Regions from separate parts of the Homo sapiens genome. Here region 2 is linked to region 1. Evidence: fine-mapped QTL for protein levels in blood plasma. A gene starts in region 1. The other region holds a variant in brackets. All regions are shown on one strand. Distances are from middle to middle. Region 1 holds the start of IL5RA (interleukin 5 receptor subunit alpha). Region 2 overlaps IL5RA (interleukin 5 receptor subunit alpha).

Evidence for each region. PIP is the posterior inclusion probability: the model's chance that the variant is causal. Protein levels are from the aptamer-based SomaScan assay of Sun 2018.
Region 2: its variant is fine-mapped to the plasma level of the IL5RA protein (Sun 2018, PIP 0.95).

Annotation. Positions count from the first base shown.
Region 1 is chr3:3,110,199-3,115,730 of GRCh38, forward strand. It overlaps IL5RA (interleukin 5 receptor subunit alpha), which reads right to left and starts at 176. Exons shown (of 12, transcript NM_175726.4): 1 at 1-176.
Region 2 is chr3:3,092,542-3,097,541 of GRCh38, forward strand. It overlaps IL5RA (interleukin 5 receptor subunit alpha), which reads right to left. Exons shown (of 12, transcript NM_175726.4): 8 at 2,758-2,903. Among named protein-coding and RNA genes, the nearest start is that of IL5RA, 15 kb to the right of the region's middle. The variant T/A (reference allele first, on the strand shown) is at 3,088.

The DNA.
Region 1 (5,532 bases):
AAACGAAAGAATCTCTCGTCCAGATAGCCATTATCTGATAACTGTCTTGTCTGCATTTTCACTCTCTTTCAGAGTTGGTTTGCTCTCTTCAGGAGTGGGAATTAACTTTTACTCATGGTGACAAGGTAAACAAGTTTTCCGTGGGTACTCTAAAGCGTTGCATTTCTGTTTTGTTTATGTGCCTTGTTTGGCTACAGTAGTTACTGTGCCTCTGTCTCCTAGGCAACACTGACACATGATTTGATAGGAAGTAAGGCCTGAGGAGTACCCTCTCCCCACTCACTAGGCAATAGCAGCAATTCTCTGCCCTTAGAGAACCGCCTTAGCTCTTCTCTGCTTTGTGAGCAGGTCTGGTACCCTCAAGTAAATATGTGTGGGGGATGCGTTTCTGGGTGTGATAAATTGCTGCTGTCTGTCACCTGAGATCATCCTACACAAATTGTAACAATGGCAGTGTTGGTCTGTGGGTGCACCCAAGACCACCTTCCTCACGTCACATCCATTTTACCACCCAGCTGTCTTCAGAATGCTTCAATTTCAGCAAACCTCCTTGGCTTTTCCTGTCCTTTGTTCCATTTCTGTTTGATTCCTTCTGGGGAATTTCGAGGTGGCTAGCTAGCAAAGCTGGCTTTAAAAAAGTAGCTTAGCGTGTGAATAGATAAGAGTAGTGCTTATTGTATGACCCACGGCAGAGAGTAGTAAGTAGTTGCCTTTGGAAGGAGACCTTCAGTCTAGCCTAAGCGATGAGTGATGCAGGATTCCCTGTCTCCTTAGGAGCTGACTGGGAGAGTCTCAGACAGAGCAGATGCAGAAAGATGGTGGCCCAGGTTGGATCAGTGGTTCTGTTTGTGAGATGAGAGACAGGCTTCCTGGAGGCAATTTCCAAAAGGCTCAGTGTAGAAGCTGTGCAAGTACAGTCAGCGTGTGTGCCTGGGGTTCCCAAGGTGACCATTTTAGCAGTTGCCAAAATGAAACCGGAGCAATTGTTATCAGGTTGAAAATTGTTGTCAGACCTGAAAAATGTGATTTTCCTCGGGGAAAGGGGAAGTAAAACAAGGAACAGAGAGAGATCCATTTATTTGCTAAGAGGCACCCAGAAAAGTTTAGATATAGTATCAACTATCTGGCCTACTCTTTTAAGTCCTGCCCATCTGTTTATACATGTAACATATTTGTCACTAATGAAACCTTAAAAATACTTATTAATCATTGGGAAGACAGTAATTTCTGGCTTAAAAGCCTGCTTTAATGGCCTCTCTCCGTATATATATATGTATATTTTTTGAGATGAAGTCTCACTCTGTCGCCCAGGCTGGAGTGCAGTGGCGCAATCTCTGCTCACTGCAACCTCTGCCTCCCAGGTTCAAGCGATTCTCTTGCCTCAGCCTCCCGAGTAGTTGGGATTACAGGCACCCGCCACCACGCCTGGCTAATTTTTTGTATTTTTGGTAGAGATGGGGTTTCACCATGTTGGCCAGGCTTGTCTCAAATTCCTGACCTCAAGTGATGCACCCGCCTTGGCCTCTTAAAGTTCTGGGATTACAGGTGTGAGCCACCACACTCAGCCAATGGTCTGTATATTTCTTACATTCATTTACTCAAATATTCATTGAATGCACCTATGCACTATGCTAGGCGCGGTGAAGGGTATAAAGAAAATTAGATCTGGCTGCTCCTTCCATACCACCTTCCTGGGTATATGATCTTTAATTAACTACGCCAATAAAAACAAACAAACAAACAAAGCAAACACATGCTCATACAGAAACACTGTCTCTATGTTTCTGTATAAGCACAAACGAAAAAATGAGAGGCAGGGACTTTTTTTTTTTCTGGCGGGGGGTTGCGGGGGGGTTGTTTGTTTGTTTTGAGATGGAATTTCAGTCTTGTTGCCTAGGCTGGAGTGCAATGGCGCGATCTCAGCTCACCACAACCTCCACCTCCCGGGTTCAACCGATTCTCCTGCCTCAGCCTCCTGAGTAGCTGGGATTACAGGCCCCCGCCACCACACCCAGCTAATTTTTTTGTATTTTTAGTAGAGATGGGGTTTCACCACGCTGGTCAGTCTGGTCTTGAACTCCTGACAGGTGATCCACCCACCTCGGCCTCCCAAAGTGCTGGGATTACAGACGTGAGCCACTGAGCGAGGCCTGTTTGGTTTTTTATGGCAATAATTTAATTCTTTATAATAAAGTGTAAACGTCCAAAGACAGTATGATAGAACATGCTGGAAGAATTCACAAAAGTCGTTTTTTTAAAAAGTGAAATTAAATGTGTCTGCATCCTTTAAGCAAAACAATGTGAGTTTAGCCAAATAGAAATATGAATAGTAATAAAACGAAAATCATGGTTCAGTGGCTCTACCATGAACTTTGGTTAAAGGAGCTTATTAAAGGTATCAACTTCTAGAACTTGATTCCATGGAAATAATGGAAAAATGTAGATCAAGATTTATACAAAAGAGAGCAAAATTCATTGTACCTTTACAATAGTAAAATAGTAAAAGTACTATAGGAATGGTGAAGAGAAATATGTAACTGCTCAAGGTTGAAATATGTGATGTGGATGTCAAAAGGAATGTTTATCAATAACTTTTTTTTTTCTTTTGAGACAGGGTGGTGCCCTGTCACCCAGGCTGGAGTGCAGTGGCAGGATCTCGGCTCACTGCAGTCTCTGCCTCCTGGGTTCAAGTGATTCTCGTGCCTTAGCCCCCGGAGTAGCTGGGATTGCAGGCATGTGCCACCATGCCAGATAATTTTTGTATTTTTAGTAGGGAGAGGGTTTCACCATGTTGGCCAGGGTGGTCTCAAACTCCTGGCTTGTGATCCTCCCACCTTGGCCTCCCAAAGTGCTGGGATTACAGGTATGAGCCAATCAAGAACTTTTAATAACATAGGGTATTATGAAAAAATGTTAAGTAAAAACAACAGGAGGGTATACACACATGTAATTTTTTTTTACAGTCTTATTTTTGGTCAGAAGATCAGACTAACAGGAATAGTTATCTCTAAGTGGTAGGTGTATTAGTCAGCTATTGCTACAGAACAAGCAACCACAGAACCCTCAGTGGTAAACTGTGATAGGCATGTATTTGTAGCCCATGTGTCTGAGTTTTGACTGGGGTCTGCTTAATCTTGGGCTGGGATCCAGATCACAAAGTGAGTTCAGATTTGTTCCAAGTATCTGCCATTCATTTGGAACCAGTGGCTACCCAGGGCATAATCTTTTTATGGTGACAGCAAAAGTGCAAGAGAGCAGGACCAACTGCACAAGCACGCATCAAGCATCTGCTCATGTCACATTCCCTGACATCTCAAGAGGCTGAGCAAATTGCATGGCCAAGCCCGGAGTCAAATGGACGAAGCCCAAAGTACATTCCACCATGATAAGGCCATGATAAGGATGTGGACATGGACAACTCCTAGTGGGGAGTGAAGAAATGGGACCAACAGTTCATTCTACCACGGCAGGGTTAGTGTTTCTCTTACTTTTATTCTGTGTTTCTATATTTACAAACGTTTTATTCTGTACAAATGCAGGCAGAAAAAGTTATTTTAAAAAATATTAGAGACATACAGATCAATTTAATAGAATTGAGAGTCAAAAATAAACTCTCGCATTTAGGGTCAATTGATTTTTGACAAGAGTGTCAAGACAATTCAGCGGGGAAAAGATCAGCCTTTCAATAAGTGGTGCATATCCACATGCAAAAGAATGCCTCGCAGCATAGACAAAAATGAATTCCAATGGGATCAAAGACCTAAAAGTAAGAGGCAAAACTATAAAATTCTTAGAAGAAAACATAGGCATAAATCTTCATGACCTTCATTTTGTTTCTTTCTTTTTTTTTTTTTTTTTTTTTGAGACAGAATCTTACTCTGTCGCCTAGGCTGGAGTGCAGTGGTATGATCTCAGCTCACTGCCAACTCCCCTGCCTCCTGGATTCATGCGATTCTCCTGCCTCAGCCTCCCGAGAAGTTGGGATTACAGGCGTGTGCCACCACACCCGGCTAAGTTTTATATTTTTACTAGAGATGGGGTTTTGCCATGTTGGCCAGGCTGGTCTCGAACTCCTGATCTCAGGTGATCCACCCACCTTGGCCTCCCAAAGAGCTGGGATTACAGGCATGAGCCGCCGCACCTACCCAATGGTTTCTTCAATAAGATACAAAAGCAGACACAACAAAAGAAAAAAATAGATAAACTGGATTTCACCAAAATTAAAAGCTTTTGTGCTTCAAAGGATACCATGAAGAAAGTGAAAAAAGACCGGATGCAGTGGCTCACGTCTCTAATCCCAGCACTTTGGGAAGCCAAGGTAGGCAGATCACCTGAGGTCAGGAGTTTAAGACCAGCCTGACCAGCATGGTGAAACCCTGTCTCTACTAAAAAACACAAAAATTAGCCAGGTGTGGTGGCAGGTGCCTGTAATCCCAGCTACTCAAAGGCTGAGACAGGAGAATGGCTTGAACTCGGGAGGCGAAGGTTGCAGTGAGCTGAGATCGTGCCACTGCACTCCAGCCTGGTCAACAGAGCAAGACTCTGTCTGAAATAAAATAAAATAAAATACAAGGAAGTGAAAAGACAAGCCACAGCATGGGAAAAATATTTGCAAAGACATATCTGACAAGGAACTTTTATTTAGAATATGTCAAAAACTCTTAAAACCAAACAATAAAAAGAAAAATAACCCACTTTAGCCTGTAATACCAGCACTTTGGGAGGTTGAGGTGGGAGGATAGCTTGAGCCCAGGAGTTTGAGGCTCTGGTGAGTCGTGTTCGTGCCACTGTACTCCAGTCTGGGTGACAGAGCAAGACCTTTCTCAAAAAACGAAAGAAAGATAGAAAGAAAAAAGTAAAATAACCCAGTTTAAGCATGGGATAAAGAATTTGAACAGACATATCTCCAGAGAAGATGTACCAACAGCAAAGGTGCCTAGGAACATCTGCTCCATATCATTAGCTATTGGAAATGCAAATGAAAACCACACTGAGATACCTCTTCACACCCACTCCAATGGCTGAAATGAAAAGGACAATAACAACTGTTGATGAAGATGTGGAAACACTGGAACCCTCACATACTGTTGCTGGGGAGGTAAAGTGAGGTGGCCAATTTGGAAAACAGCCTGGCAGTTCGTCAAAAGGTTAAATGTGGAGTTCCCATACGACTGAGTAATTGCATTCCTAGGCAAATACCCACCCAAGAGAGTTAAAATCATGTGTCTACATAAAAATTTATATGTGAATATTCACAGAAGAATTAGTTATAATGGCCAAAGAGTGAAAACAGCCCAAATGTCCAGCAACTGATGAATGGATAAAGAATATGTGGTATATCCATGCCGTGAAATATTATTCAGCCATCAAAAGAAGCACTGATACTACAACATGGATGAACCTTGAACACATGAAGCTAAGTAAAAGAAGTCAGTCACAAAAGATCACACACTGCATGATTCCACTTATATGAAATGTCCAGGATAAGCAAATCTATAGAGATAGAAAATAGATTCATGGTTGCCTAGGGCT
Region 2 (5,000 bases), 18 kb before region 1:
CACCCTTCAGTGGAACGCTATCTTGTAACCAAAATATACGAAATGATCAACGGTCAAGATCCAGGTGTTCCTATCCAGGCCCAGCTGATGTTTCCAGACTGAAAGACTGGAGTGGCCTATGCTAGAATGCATTATTCCCTCACCTTGTCTCTCCATAATCTATAGTCACATTACTAAATAATGTCACATGAACGCTAGATTGTCTAGTGTTGAAATGAAGCTATTTTCTCATGAATGAGCCCTTCTTCTTTTTCCTTCTACTGATCATGGTCGCCACCATCCAGCTAGTCCCCTGTACCAGAGATGTGCTCCTGACACCTGTATCTTGAATACCCCCGGAGGTGTTTCTCCCTTTTTTACTCCAGCCCTGTGACCATTGCCTATTTTAGCTCTTATTATCTTTTGCTTGGACCTTTGCAGTAGCCGCTAACTGATATCATATGTCCATGTCGCCCCTCCCCACTCACATCCAGTTTTCATGCTGCTACCAAAAATCTTCTTTTACTCTGCAAATGTAGACATATTTCTCTATTGTGTAAAACTCTTCAGTGGCATCCATTGCCCAGAGTCATGGTTTTTAAAAAAGAAGCCACTTCTTTATTTTTTAGCAAAATCTTATAGAGCCACTCTGGGAGAAATCACAATGTCAGATACAGAGTCATGATTTCAGCATTGGTCTTATGTCCAGGCATCCAGGCAGACTGAATTACTTGCCACTTGACTGAAAGAACCATACTCTCTCAAGCATAAAGTTACTCCTTTTCCTAGGCTGGTGCAAGTCAGGAACTATTTATTACTGGCTTGTGATGGGCTAAATACAGATAAAATTATGACTGCAATTTGGAAGTTTTGATAGCAATTTGACATTGCCATGATATCCAAACACATGATCAGTGAACTGACACTTTACATGTCTTTGGCTATATTTAATTTTTTCTAGCAGATCATTTTTATTGTATTTGACAAAAGCACCAATCTATGGTAGATTAGACATTATAAAAACACACGCACACACACGTGCACACACAGTCCTTCAGTGTAAGTATTTTGGGAAGCTCTGGCTAAGAAAGTCCTTCTCATGTTTTCTCACCAGACTAGTTTCTCTTCATCCTTACAGATTCCGTTCAATTCCTCTCTGCAGAGCAGGCTCTGTGCCCACACCCCCATCTCTAGCTGTACTGGCTTTTCCTGTGGGAGGGCAACCCCAAGGCTGGGCAAGTATGTCACAAGATTGGGTCACTCCATGGCAGAAACAGTCTTATTTCTCACAAAGAAGCCAATTTGTAAATATTTGTTGAATCTAATTGAATTGGCTTTGTCTACTCTCTGTAAGACATAAGTTGGAATCCTATTTTTTTTCCTAGCTTTGTGACTGTGGGAGAGTTACTTCATCTCTTTTGCCTCACTTTCCTATAAAATGGGAATGGTAATTACATCATAGAATTATGTGAGGATGGAATAAACACATAATAAAGCTTGACACATAATTGATGCTCAAGAAATGTTGATTGGCTTTCTTCTCAGTTCCTTTCCCCTTGAAATTTTTGTCTATTAGTGCTAATGAGTTTTTTTAATTGTAAAATACATATAATGAAATTTACCATCTTAATCCTTTTTAAGTGTACAGCTTTGTGATATTAAATAGTTTCACATTGTTGTGTCACCAATGTTCAACACTCTTTTAATCTTGCAAAACTGGAACTCTGTACCCATTAAACAATACCTCTCCTTCCACCCTCCTACCAATTCCTGGTAACCACCATCCTACCCTGTTTCTATGAGTTTGACTATTTAACCTCATAAAAGTAGAATCAGACAGTATTTGTCCTTTCGTGACTGACTTATTTTGCTTAGCATAATGTCCTCAAGGCTCCTCCATGTGGTAGCATGTGTCAGAATCTCCTTCCTTTTAATGCTGGATAATATCCTATTATATGTATATGCTGCATTTTGCTTATCCATTCATTTAATGGGCACTTGGGTTGCTTCCAGCTTTTGGCTATTGTGAATAATGCTGCTATGGACATGGGTGTACAAACATCTCTTTGAATCCTTGCTTTCGATTCTTTTGTATATGTAATCAGCAGTGGAATTGTTGGATCGTATGGGAATTCTATTTCTAATTTTTTGAGAATTCATCATATCGTTTTTATAGTAGCTGCATTATTTTAGTTTTTTGTTTTTTTGTTTTTGTTTTTTTAGATGAAATGTTGCTCTGTCACCCAGGCTGGAGTGCAGTGGCGCCATCTCAGCTTACTGCAACCTCCGCCTCCCTGGTTGAAGTGATTCTCCTGCCTCAGCCCCTGCCCCCGAGTAGCTGGGATTATAGTCACGCGCCATCACGTTGGCTGATTTTTGTATTTTTAGTAGAGATGGGGTTTCACCATGTTGGCCAGGCTGGTCTTGAACTCCTGGTCTCAGGTGATCCACCCACATTGGCCTCCCAAAGTGCTAGGATTACAGGCGTGAGTCACCCCACCCGTCTATCATTTTAGATTTTAACCAGCACTAGTACCAATGAGTCTGTATCTAATCCTTTGTATTAGTTTCAACCAAAAGTATGTTCTTTCAAAACAAAAGGCCAGTAAGATTTGGTTTATATCTATTTGGTTATATCTATAATACCTGGGTAGATTAAGTTAACTTTGACCTTGTTAGTACCAAGCTGTAACTTGGTTGCAGTCACTGAAGATAATTTTTTAAATGTTTCTAAAACAAATGTCTGTTATCAAATATTGGAATAATCTGAGTAATTACCTGCAAATATCCATTCCTTGTATTGTGTATTTTTACTTCATAATCAAAGCAATGGATTGGAAAAGCAGACACTGGTTTCTCCCATTGGATAGAGAGACGAGTTCCTTCAATCTCTGCTGTGACATTCAGTGGAGGATTTATTTGATCTAAGTTAGGGAACGAAAGATCAGTGATTTTTTTTTTAGAATCAGTGATCAAAGCTGATAATTCCAATCCACCCACACTTCTCAAGGCATTTCTAAGATACGCTTTTTTCAAATATTTACCATCAGGTCTTAATCAACTGATCTCCAAGCCACAGGAAGCCGGTGGCCTCCCATAATACTCTTG[T/A]CTTATAGTGCTGAAGAAGAAGAGACCCTTTCTGGAAACTACAAGGATTACTACTCCAAATAGAGTTGAATGCTTGAATTACTTCCCCCCCTCAGCTCATTGCAAGACTCACCCACCATCCCCCTTTACTACTCAAGTTGTACCAGGCCCAGAATAAACCTGACCACTGAGAGAACATTTCCCTGGACCTTCCACCAAGCCTTGCCTCTTCCCAGTAGGTATGTGGCCCTGAACAAATCACTTCCCCTTTCTGAGATTCAGTTTTTAATTTTAATTTCATTTTGTTTACTGCGTCTTTTGGTTTTTGTTTGTTTGGGGGCTGGAGCAGGAAGCTTCAGTTTTCTTTTGCATCAAAAAGAATGGATTGGGGCAGGGCGTGGGGGCTCACGCCTGTAATCCCAGCACTTTGGGAGGCCGAGGCGGGTGGATCACGAGGTCAGGAGATCGAAACCATCCTGGCTAACGTGGTGAAACCCCCTCTCTACTAAAAATACAAAAAATTAGCTGAGCGTGGTGGTGGGCGCCTGTAGTCCCAGCTACTCAGGAGGCTGAGGCAGGAGAATGGCGTGAACCCAGCAGGCGGAGCTTGCAGTGAGCCGAGATCGCGCCACTGCACTCCAACCTGGGTGACAGAGCAAGAAATCTGTCTCAAAAAAAAAAAAAGAAGAAGAAGAAGAAGAAGAGTGGATTGGGCTAAATTTGTCTTTACTTAGGACTCTAATGTCCTTTCCCTTGAGATCTCACTTGATTGTCTTATGGTCCGGTGAGGTGAGGGGAAATGAATTCTTAATGAGTGTCCTTGTCTTAGGTAATATGACTTAGATCTCACAATTAATAGGGAAAAGCTAGGAGTGGGATCCACTGGCTTCAGAGCCTCCTATACCCTATGAAGAAAATTCTTAACCAAGAAAGTACTTATTTATTTTAGTAATCCTAGGAATCAGCCTCAATAAAATGAAAATCATAAAAGAAAAATGAATTCCTGTGGTCTGTACTAGATCATATCCATTTTCATATTAATATCATTGTTTCCTAGGTCTTCCTCGGCATCTTTTATTGCCTATTTTCATGAAAGTGACATTTTTAGTTCACCTAAGAAATATATTACTGGAGAGAATTGCATAACCTCTTTAGTAAGGGCTATGATTCTTTACACAAAGTTATATTCCATTGGATATAGATATGTCACAGCCAAATCATACCTTCTAAATAATATTGTAGTGTATTTATTAAACCTTTATGCCAGGCACTGTTCTAAGTGCTTTATCATTAGTAACACAATTCTCACGAAGACTGCACAGGAAGTATTGATTCCTCTCCATTGTTTCAGATAAGAAGATTAGGCACAAAGGAATGATCAGCTTGTCCAAGGTCACTCAGCCAGTGGTGGAGCCAGGATCCAAATCCAGGCAGTCTGGCCCCACAGCCCATAATAACCACCCACCATTGAAATCTGGAATCTCCATAACTAAGAATGCCATGTGAGAGCGCCTGATGAGTTTCACTAATAGAACTATCTGGGATGAGGGAGAGTGTCTTCTCTATTGAGAACTGAGCAGACAAAACCACGAATAGAATTTTTAGAGCTGAGAATTGCACACTGAGAGATATTCGAGCTGCAGAACATCCAGGAGATGGGCCAGAACAGTGAGAAATTCAGAGAGAGAGAGATGTTAGCCTGGGAGAAGAAGGGCTTCTGGATGGGAAACGTGCTGCCTGTGAACAGCTAAGAGAGGCTATTCTATAGGGAAGGGACTCAAATCACCTGGGGTGGCACTAGTCCATCACAGGACCCAGGGGCAGAAATTTCACAAAACCTGTCAGAACTCATGAAGGATTAAATGGTCTCTTTTAAGCAGCTAAATTCACTTTTTCTGGTGCAGTGATTCTCAACTGGGGGAAATTTTACCCCT